3 linked regions of the Homo sapiens genome follow. Changing the gene in region 1 together with any one later gene gives a genetic interaction. Each region holds a gene or a part of one and is shown in the gene's direction. Other genes may lie near its edges. The genes, in order: SKIC8, MRPL46 and MTPAP.

Evidence for each region.
Region 2: changes in SKIC8 (region 1) and MRPL46 together harm fitness less than expected from each alone (positive genetic interaction), as found in Homo sapiens cells (one large-scale study listed by BioGRID).
Region 3: changes in SKIC8 (region 1) and MTPAP together harm fitness less than expected from each alone (positive genetic interaction), as found in Homo sapiens cells (one large-scale study listed by BioGRID).

Annotation. Positions count from the first base shown.
Region 1 is NC_000015.10:78,292,970-78,296,624, reverse strand, and holds part of SKIC8 (superkiller complex protein 8), read left to right. Parts: intron 1-831; exon of another isoform or gene 832-899; 5' UTR 900-938; coding exon 939-950; intron 951-1,651; coding exon 1,652-1,679; intron 1,680-3,352; coding exon 3,353-3,458; intron 3,459-3,655. UniProt on the Homo sapiens protein: Component of the PAF1 complex (PAF1C) which has multiple functions during transcription by RNA polymerase II and is implicated in regulation of development and maintenance of embryonic stem cell pluripotency.
Region 2 is NC_000015.10:88,458,918-88,461,778, reverse strand, and holds the end of MRPL46 (large ribosomal subunit protein mL46), read left to right. Parts: intron 1-1,915; coding exon 1,916-2,166; 3' UTR 2,167-2,301; downstream 2,302-2,861.
Region 3 is NC_000010.11:30,332,136-30,335,790, reverse strand, and holds part of MTPAP (poly(A) RNA polymerase, mitochondrial precursor), read left to right. Parts: intron 1-3,655. UniProt on the Homo sapiens protein: Polymerase that creates the 3' poly(A) tail of mitochondrial transcripts. Can use all four nucleotides, but has higher activity with ATP and UTP (in vitro). Plays a role in replication-dependent histone mRNA degradation.

The DNA of each region.
Region 1 (3,655 bases):
AGGTGGGAGCAAGACTTGGCCTGGGAGGTTGAAGCTGCATTGACCATGATTGTGCCACTGCACTCCAGTCTGGGTGATGGAGCAAGACCCTATCTCGAAAAAAAAAAGTCCGCCAAAGGGGGTCTTTGGCACACACAAAGAAATAAGAACCATTAGCCCTTAATGTAGCCTGAGAAATTAGATCTATCCTTTTTTTTTTATTTTTTATTTTTATTTTTTAAGATGGAGTCTCGCTCTGTCACCCAGGCTGGAGTTCAGTGGCACAATTTCAGCTCACTGCAACCTCCGCTGCCTAGGTTCAAGTGATTCTCCTGCCTCAGCCTCCTGAGTAGCTGGGATTACAGGTGTGCGCCACTACACCCAGCTAATTTTTGTATTTTTATTAGAGACGTGGTTTCACCATGTCAGCCAGGATGTTCTCAATCTCTTGACACGTGTCTCCCTCCAGCTTCTGCCCTTATTTACCTGCCTGTTGGCTCTTAAAGGCATTTTTGGTTGAGACTTTTGCATGTAAAATAAGAACTTTGCCATCTTTGGATTCCCCCATGTTTGTTTGTTTGTTTTTAATAAATAATATTTAATATTAAAAGGAGCTGTGGTTTTTTTCTCTCTAAAGAGCAGGAAAGGACAGAGACTGGTCGCTCTCTGCAGTCACACTTGAGGTGAAGAAACCATGGGATAGAATTAGCTGTTAGTTGAGTCCCTAGGTTCAGAGGAAGAAAGAAGACCATACCACCTGGTAGGGAGTGCGAAGGAGGTTCCAGGGACTGATCCATAGAAGGGTGTCAGAACAACTTCATAATAAAGAGTTGCCTTATTTTCTTGGTCAAGGGGAACTTCCTGTGTGCCTTCTATCCTGATGACACCCCCTCACTGAAATCCTGGTGTTGTTTCCACAGAGCTGTCTGGCCTTTTGTCCTTGATCCTTGGTTAAGGAAATGACCAACCAGGTAAGACCTGTGTTGAAGGGAAAAACATCAATTGGTCTCTTTGCCAAGTTCAAGTCCAGTAGGTTTTCTGGATGTGTAGTCAAGAAACTAGCATCTCATTCTTGCCTGGCTCCTAAAGAGCTGGGTGACCCTGGGTACCTAGTCACCACAGTGTTAGGTGGGACTAGTGAAATGCAAATACTGAGAGGAGGATTGGTTCATCCAAGTCTTTACCACAATTTAGTGAGTAATAGAAGAAGCTTAAAAGATGTTGTACAAAAAAAAAAAAAAAAAGATCAGAATAGGAGATAGAACAGGAGAAACATATCTTTGTAATAAGATTAGGGACAAAGTTAATAGACGGTTAGGCAGGCTGTGTGTTCTTATTGCAGCTGCAAAATTTAAGCTACAAACTGGACTTTGAGCTTCCTTGGTGATCAGAACAGAAAAAGAAAACATAATTTATTGGTCTCTTGTTGAGTGAGTTTGGGTAGTAGGAAGGAGGGGAGAATGTCAGTTTCTTTAAGAATTTTTTTCTGATATGACTGTACAAATCTTGCATGAATGGGAATCAAGGAGCTTGCGGGATGGCCAGGTTGACAGCAGAGGAAGTAACTAACACTGTGGTGACTCTGTCTACTCGGGGAGGAGTGCTTTCTGGAGGCAATGTGAGACATCTGAAATCTGACCATGGGTTTAATGTGGCTTCTGTTCTTTTTTAGTACGGTATTCTCTTCAAACAAGAGCAAGGTAAGTAGCCTGCCTGTTTAAGCAATTCATCTGTGAAAAAAACTGTGTTGTCCCTGGTTTAAGACTTTTGTCATGCTGACCAGACATGCAGTTTTCAAGTATACTCACTTTGCAGAAGAATTGGCAGCTGAAAACAAATACTCTTAAAAAACAGACAACAACAACAACAACAACAAAAACCTGAACAACCAGCTAAAAAAAAAAAGCAGTCATCATGATAGGTTGGGGAATTCTAGGCTGAGGAAAATTTTTCCACCTGAGGAAGACATGATGGAGCTTCCCAGCTGCTGAGGTGGAAGAAGGAAATGCTTTGAGGCTCAAAACTCTGTTAATGCCGGCTCATCTGGGGAGGTGAACGTGAGCCTTTTTCTGAACTCAGAACTTGCTTTGGCCCTTAATGAAAGTGAAGCCTATAATAGTGAAATGAGTTTCTCTTGAGGCCACCGAGTGCATGGGGAGGGCTGGGAGCTGTGCAGCAGTGGCAGTGGCAGGGATGGGAGAGCAGGTGGCAGGTCAGAGTGGGCTGGGATTGTAACTGACCAGTGGTACAGAGCTTTGTACCCAAAAAGGAGCCATGTTTGTGCATGGGCTACTCACCCATCTCATTTCTTCACTATAGCCTCGATGAGTTTGAGAAGGCCTAAGGAATTTGTGGAATGCCTAATAAAAGCTCTTGCTCTCTAAGTAGGTGACATGGAGGTAGTTTGACGTTTAAGCCAAAAGCATCATTCAGGTTAGCTAGTGTAAGTAACTAGTAGGCTAATTGGGCATGCCAGTCAACTACCTTATATGTAGCTATTGTCATCCAGGTGGCAAGTTAGCAGGCTTGAGTTAGGTGAGGTTTGAAATGGAAGCCACAACGCTGTCTGTGGTGCACAGCTGTTTTAAGTTTAATGCCTTTATATTCATATTTTGGGAAGGTATCGCTGGAGAATTGTTGCCAGGCAGGGGTAAAGCCTCCATGTGCACTTGTCACGTTTTTACATCCACACTGGGTCTGCACATACAACAGCATGGCCTACCAAATATGCAGCTTACAGACTTAGACTTAAGGTAGACTTTAATTAATAGAGATTGGATTTGAATCCTAGCACCTCTCATTCCTTGTCTATAAAATGAGGATATTAATAGTACCCACTTCATAGGATTGTTGTAATGTAATAATTGGCCCATTAACCATAATAAAGATACTTGTGGGGAAAGGCAACTTAATATATGGAGGCTATAGTAGGTATTTTCTTTTAGATCTATACTGTTTAGAATTGAACTGCCTGCTTGTTTCGAAAGATCTTTTCGGAGTATCTGTTACCGGGTTTAGGCCTTTTCTTGGTAGGAGGGGGTCTTCCCCACTGGTTTTACTTGTTTTTAGCCAAGTGATAGCCATTGTAGACTCCTATATACCAGATAGCATGCTAAAAGAAAGGACACTGGATTTAGAGTCCGAAGTACTACCTTGTCGCCTGGTAAACATGAGATTTAGGGCAAGTAGCTTCTTCAGAACCTCCAATTTTCATATGTGGCCCCAAAATTTCAATAAAAGCTGTATAGGAAAGCACTTTGTAAAATAGTAAAGCAAATACAAATAAATGTTACCTCACAATTGTTGAACAGTATCTCGGCTTCATTAAGTCGTATGCAAGAAGACTTTATAAATGAAGCACTTTCCATTCTAGCCCATGATGATGCCATTTGGTCAGTTGCTTGGGGGACAAACAAGAAGGAAAACTCTGAGACAGTGGTCACAGGCTCCCTAGATGACCTGGTGAAGGTCTGGAAATGGTGAGTGCCTCTCCCCTAACATACAGCCTTGGAAAATTGGGGGCTGAGGTTTTGCTTCTGAACTCTCCAGTTGCAGTCCGGGAAATACTTTTTTCTAGGCAAGAAAGCAATAGCAATATGGTGGTATAAAACAGCAGCTTATTTTTCCCACTTGTTTTCCTGTTACTCTGTATTAAAGCCCTAAAGTTAAAAAAAAA
Region 2 (2,861 bases), about 10 Mb from region 1:
GCTCATCTTTGCTCACATGGGCAAATTAGTATATCTGGTAGGATAAAAGTCTAGAACTGGAGTTGCTAGGTCAAAGGGCATGTGCAATTAAGTTGACACCTCTTGCCAATTAATAGCACTTATACTAATTTATAACCCCTCCAAAATATGTGTGAAAGTACAGGTTTTTTCCTTATCCTTCATAAGCAGAGTACAGTTAAGTTTTTGAACTTCAATAATGATATATGTTGTTGTTTAACTTTATTTCTTTAAATTATTAATAAGTTTGAACACCTTTTAATGTATTTATGGGCCAGTGATATTTATTTTCATGTGAGCTTAACTGTTCATGTGCTTGGTTCATTTTTCTTTTTAATTTGTTGTTTTTTTTCCTCATTGATTTTTTTTCCTTTAGAGATGGAATCTTGCTATGTTGCCCAGGCTGGCCTTAAACTCCTATTCTCAAGCAGTACTCCTGCCTCAGCTTCCTGAGTATCTGCATTGATTTTTAAGTGCTTCTTATACCTTAAGATATTCCTTTGTTGAACGTGTTGAAAATATTTTTCCTAGTTTGTCATTTTGTCTTTGACTTTTTTTGTGCTTCATTTTTCCTTGCAGAAAGATTTAATTTTTATGTAGACAAATATAAATCTTTTGTTTTTTGGGCTTAAAAATTTTGTTTCTTGCTTAGAAAGGCCTTGCCCTCTCAAATAATATCTTAAGGTTTAAGAAAGCATCCTGCATTTTCTTCTAATGCTCATGTGTTTTTATTGTAATTAGAAAATATGCCCTGCACTTTGGGAGGCCGAGGTAGGCGGATCACTTGAGGCCACAAGTTCAAGACCAGCCTGACCAACATGGCAAAACCCCGTCTGTACTAAAAATACAGAAAAAAAATTAGCTGAGTGTGGTGGCACATGCCTGTAATCCCAGCTACTCAGGAGGCTGAGGCATGAGAATCCTTTGAACCCAGGAGCCTGAGGTGGTAGTGAACCAAGATTGCACGACTGCACTCCAGCCTGGGTGACAAAGCGAGACTCTGTCTTGGGAAAAAAAAAATACAGAGAAGATTGGAAAATATTAAATGTCCATGAAACAACCATCCAGAATGAATAAATTTTTTATGAAAAGTTAAAATGTCTATTGTTAAATCTTTGATCTATATGGTATCAATTTTATTGTGAGGACTGAGTATGGAATCCAGCTTGGTTTTTCCCATCTGGCTAATCAGTTCTTCAGATGCCGTTTAGTAATTAGTCCATCATTTCCCCATCATTTGAAATGCTGAATTGGGGTTGTTAACCCTTAGTTATAGATTACAGATACTGTCTACTCATCTGTTTTTGTCTTTAACTTGGTTTATGCCTTTTTTCACTAGGTAGGAGTTAAAACTGGGGTCCTTTTTAATGCTTTCCAGGTGACACCCATTTTAAAGGTGGATGAACTTTGTTTTACAGACCAAATGTCCTCGTCCTTCACCAGCAGATAGCGACTGGGCTGATTCACCAACAGTTAGCGACTGGGCTGATTCGCCAACAGATAGCGACTGGGCTGATTCGCCAGCAGATAGCGACTGGGCTGATTCGCCAGCATAGCGACTGGGCTGATTCGCCAGCAGATAGCGACTGGGCTGAATGTAGGAACTAGGTGCTCTGACTCCCAGGTGTGATTGTAACTGTGTTGCTGACTTTCAGTCTAAAAACAGTAGCTTGGCACATGGGAGTGAGCCTGGTGAATCTGGACTCCATGGGCCAGGAGGCATTTGGATTGAGAGGGGAGGAGCCTCTTTTCAGGAATGGCTCTAGTCCTATTCCTAGGGATTGATTTTACCTCAGGGCCAGATCTTGCAGGGACCCCCTATAATTTTGGGAGCCAGAGTAAACAGATGGCTGTATCCTTACCTTCCAATTGTGATTTTTCTTTCCTCCCTCTTCAGAAAACAACATGGAAGCCAAGTTCCTAGGAAATGCACCCTGTGGGCACTACACATTCAAGTTCCCCCAGGCAATGCGGACAGAGAGTAACCTCGGAGCCAAGGTGTTCTTCTTCAAAGCACTGCTATTAACTGGAGACTTTTCCCAGGCTGGGAATAAGGGCCATCATGTGTGGGTCACTAAGGATGAGCTGGGTGACTATTTGAAACCAAAATACCTGGCCCAAGTTAGGAGGTTTGTTTCAGACCTCTGATGGGCCGAGCTGCCTGTGGACGGTGCTCAGACAAGTCTGGGATTAGAGCCTCAAGGACATTGTGTGATTGCCTCACATTTGCAGGTAATATCAAGCAGCAAACTAAATTCTGAGAAATAAACGAGTCTATTACTGTGTTGGTCTCAGCTGATTTGCCCTTTGATGGCCCAGTGAAGAGAGCCATCTCTTAGGGTGTCTTTCCATTTTTTTCCCAAGGTGATCACTGAGTACTGGATTATATTACAGTGCGTCACTGAGTTACTGGGCCCAGGAAGAAAGGACAGAAGGAAATGAATTGACTTCCCGAAAGCCTTGAATTCTGTGAAAGCTTCTCTAGGCCCTTGGGAAAAAACTAGTTCTATATAGTTTCTTAGCCATTTCCAGTTTGTTTTTCCTTCCCTCTGCACTTGATATGAAGGTGTTTTAATCTAGCCTGGGAAATAATCCTTCCTTCTTTCCCCCCCTTCCTAAAAGCATTTTATTTTAAAAAGAATTGAGTTATGTCTTAACCTTTTTTGAAACAGTCATGTGAAATGTGCAGTTAGTTTATCTCCATTCTACAGATGGAGGAATCACGGCCAGGTTGTGACTTAGCCCAGAGTCATACTGCATGTGCCTGTTGGTGCTAGAGGAGAATGCTGACCCCAATGCCCCTCACCTCTGGGGCTCTTGGCTCTTCAGTGTGTTGTTTGGGT
Region 3 (3,655 bases), on another chromosome or scaffold:
TGATCCACACCCCTCGGCCTCCTAAAGTGCTGGGATTACAGGCATGGGCCACTTCCCAGCAGCTTTTCACTTTCTTTCTTCCTTTTATTGGATTACTCCTGCTTTATTCCTGCACTTTCCTCCTTACCCTTTTTTTCTCTTTCAAGTTTGGATATTATTTCTTCCATTTATGTTCTCTTTAACACGATGTCTAATGGTAAAATTAACCAGTGTCTCTTCCATCCTCCCAAACAATATAAATGATGTCTTAATTTAATTACAGTGTTGAAAAGGCTATTTATTTTTATTTTTATTTTTTTGTTGGAGATAGAGTCTCTTGCTCTGTTGCCTAGGCTGAAGTACGGTGACGTGATCTAGGCTCACAGCAACTTCCGCCTTCCAAGTTCAAACAATTCTCCTGTCTCAGCCTCCCAAGTAGCTGGGACTGCAGGCAGGGGCCACCATGCCCGGCTAATTTTTTTGTTTTAGTAGAGACAGGGTTTCACGTATTGGTCAGGCTGGTCTTGAACTCCTGACCTCAGGTGATCCATCCACCTCAGCCTCCCAAAAGTGCTGGGATTACAGGCGTGAGTCACCACACGCGGCCAAGGCTATGTGTTTTTATAAAATGTTTAGTTTCTATGGCTGTATCTTTCCTTACATCTTTCAAACTAGTAGTGAACATCAGACTTTATGTGGATGTCCAGTTGATATTTCAAACAATATTTTGAGACAACTTATATTCATCTTCCCACAAATGTTCTTTCTAAGTTCTTACAAAAGTTCTATATGTTTCACATGTTAATTAGTGGCATTTTAGCTTTGCTAACCATTCTTTTAATTCTGCTTCTAAGTTGTTATCTTTTGTATTCATAGTTTCACAGTCCCTTATAAACTCTCACTTAGATTATTGTAACTACATTCTGTTTCCACTTCTTATTCCTTGTGTCATGCCTTGATATTTTAACCTTCAGTCTTTGTTGGAGTTACCTTCACTCACAGTTTGAATTTTCCCACAAAGTTAGAATGCTTCTTTTCTTTAGCATAGTATTGAAATCCTCTGTGTCTTAATTAATTTTAGTCATCATTTCCCATTATATATTGTTACATACCCAATTTTCCAACTACATTGTTTTTATTTTTCTTTTTTTAAGACGGAGCTTCACTCGGTCACCCAGGCTGGAGTGCAGTGGCATGATCTTGGCCCGCTGCAGCCTCTGCCTCCTGGGTTCAAGTGATTCTCCTGCCTCAGCCTCCTGTGTAGCTGGGACTTCAGGCACGCCCCACCACGCCCGGCTAATTTTTGTGTTTTTAATAGAGATGGGATTTCGCCATTTTGGCCAGGCTGGTCTGGAACTCCTGACCTCAGGTGATCCACACACCTTGGCCTCCCGAAGTGCTGGGATTACAGGCTTGAGCCACCATGCCCGGCCCCAACCACATTGTTTAATTACCATTTCCAGTAATAGAAGGCACTTGTAAATATCATAATGATCAAACAGTTGTTCTGTGCCTTCACTCAGGAGTGCACTTTCCCTCCATTCCTCGACTCATTCCTAATGCAGCTTTCAAGGTCTAGTTCTAATTCTACCTTCTTGAAACCGCTCTTGATTTTTTTCTCCACTCCAGCCAAAATTAACCACTCCTTTTTTGTAGTATCTTGCAGGTATTTCTATCTGTCTCCAAATTTCTTCTGTCATGTTTAGTGAGTAGCTGATGTATGTATCTCCCACTATATAATAAACTTGGGCAGATAGGAATCATGTCTGTTCATATACTTATTCCACAGTACTGTGTACTTAATTTGCTCACCATATGCTTATTGAATTGAAGCTAGCCAGGCATAGGAAACAGATAAAAATTAAATGGGTCAGTTTTATTATAATAATAATTATTATTATTACTATTTTGAGATGAGGTCTCACTCTTTTGCCCAGGCTAGAGTGCAGTGGTATGATCTCAGCTCACTGTAACCTCTGCCTCCTGGGCTCAAGCAATTCTCCTGCCTCACCCGTGTGATTGAGACTTCAGGCTTACACTGCTGCTTCCGGCTAATTATTTTAGAGATAGTGTTTCATCATGTTGCCCAGGGTGGTCTCGAACTCCTGAGTTCAGGTGATCCACCCACCTCGGCCTCCCCAAGTGCTACGATTATAGGGATTACAAGCGTAAGCCACCGCATCCGGCCTGGATCAGTTTTATTAAGACTAACATGTACTTGAAAATATATTAAGTTCCTGGCAGTGGCACTTAAATTACATTAGGCTGTCTTAAATAAAGGATTGTAACTGAATAATCAAGGAGCATAACAGTGTGTTGTAATGGTTTAAAAAGCCTGGGCTCTGGCATCAAGCTGCAGAATTTTAATTCTACTTACTAGTAATGTGATCCTAGGTAAGTTATTTACCTTCTCTCTGCCTCAATTGTCCTAACTATAAAATTGGAATGGTGTTATAGCACATATCTCATACAATGTTTGAGAGGATTTATTGAGTTAATATGTGTGAAACATTTAGAACAGTGCTTATGGCACAGAGTAAGTGTTGAAATGTTGACCACCATCAACAGCAATATAATTTTACTCTTATGTAAGTGGGAGGCAAAATTTTTTCTTTGGTGGAAACAGGCAGGAGTTAGAAACTTTCTTCTTTTTTTTAAATTTATTTTTAATTAATTAATTTATTTTTTTTTGAGACAGAGTCTTGCTCTGTCTCCCAGGCTGGAGTGCAGCGGTGCCATCTCGGCTCACTGCAAGCTCCGCCTCCCGGGTTCACACTATTCTCCTGCCTCAGCCTCCCGAGTAGCTGGGACTACAGGCGCCCGCCACCACGCCCAGCTAATTTTTTGTATTTTTAGTAGAGATGGAGTTTCACCGTGTTAGCCAGGATGGTCTCGATCTCCTGACCTCGTGATCTGCCTGCCTCTGCCTCCCAAAGTGCTGGGATTACAGGCATGAGCCACTGCGCCCGGCCATTTTAATTTTTGTTTTCTTATTGACTCGTTGTTTCACCACGGTACCCAGGATAGTCTCGAACACCTGGGCTAACGATCCTCCTGCCTCAGCCTCCCAAAGTGCTGAGATTATAGGTGTGAGCCACTGCACCTGGCCTAGAAACTTTTAGTTGAGTCTTACTCTTAGATTTCTGAGGTATAGAGGTATTTAGAAAAAGATGTTTTAAAGACAGTGCTCCAGTCTTACTAAACAATTAGGCATTTTGGGCCGGGCACAGTGGCTCAAGCCTGTAATCCTACCACTTTGGGAGGCCAAGTCGGGTGGATCACTTGAGGTCAGGAGTTCGAGACCAGCCTGGCCAATGTAGTGAAACCCCGTCTCTACTAAAAATACAAAAATTAGCTGGGCGTGGTGGTGGGAGCCTATAATCCCAGCTACTCAGAAGGCTGAGGCAGGAGAATTGCTTGAACCCGGTGAGGCAGAGGTTGCAGTGAGCCGAGATCACGCCACCTCACTCCAGCCTGGGCGAAATAGCAAGACTCTGTCATACATACACAGAAATAACCAGAACTTGGCATTTCCTGTGTCAGTTTAAATTAGGAAAGTGTTGTTATAAACATACATGTGCTTATTTAAGGATTTTTTGGAAATATGTTTTTGTTCAAGATTATAATAGCTTTGCTAGTAAAAATATTAAAAATAAAATACAATAAAAAATACAAG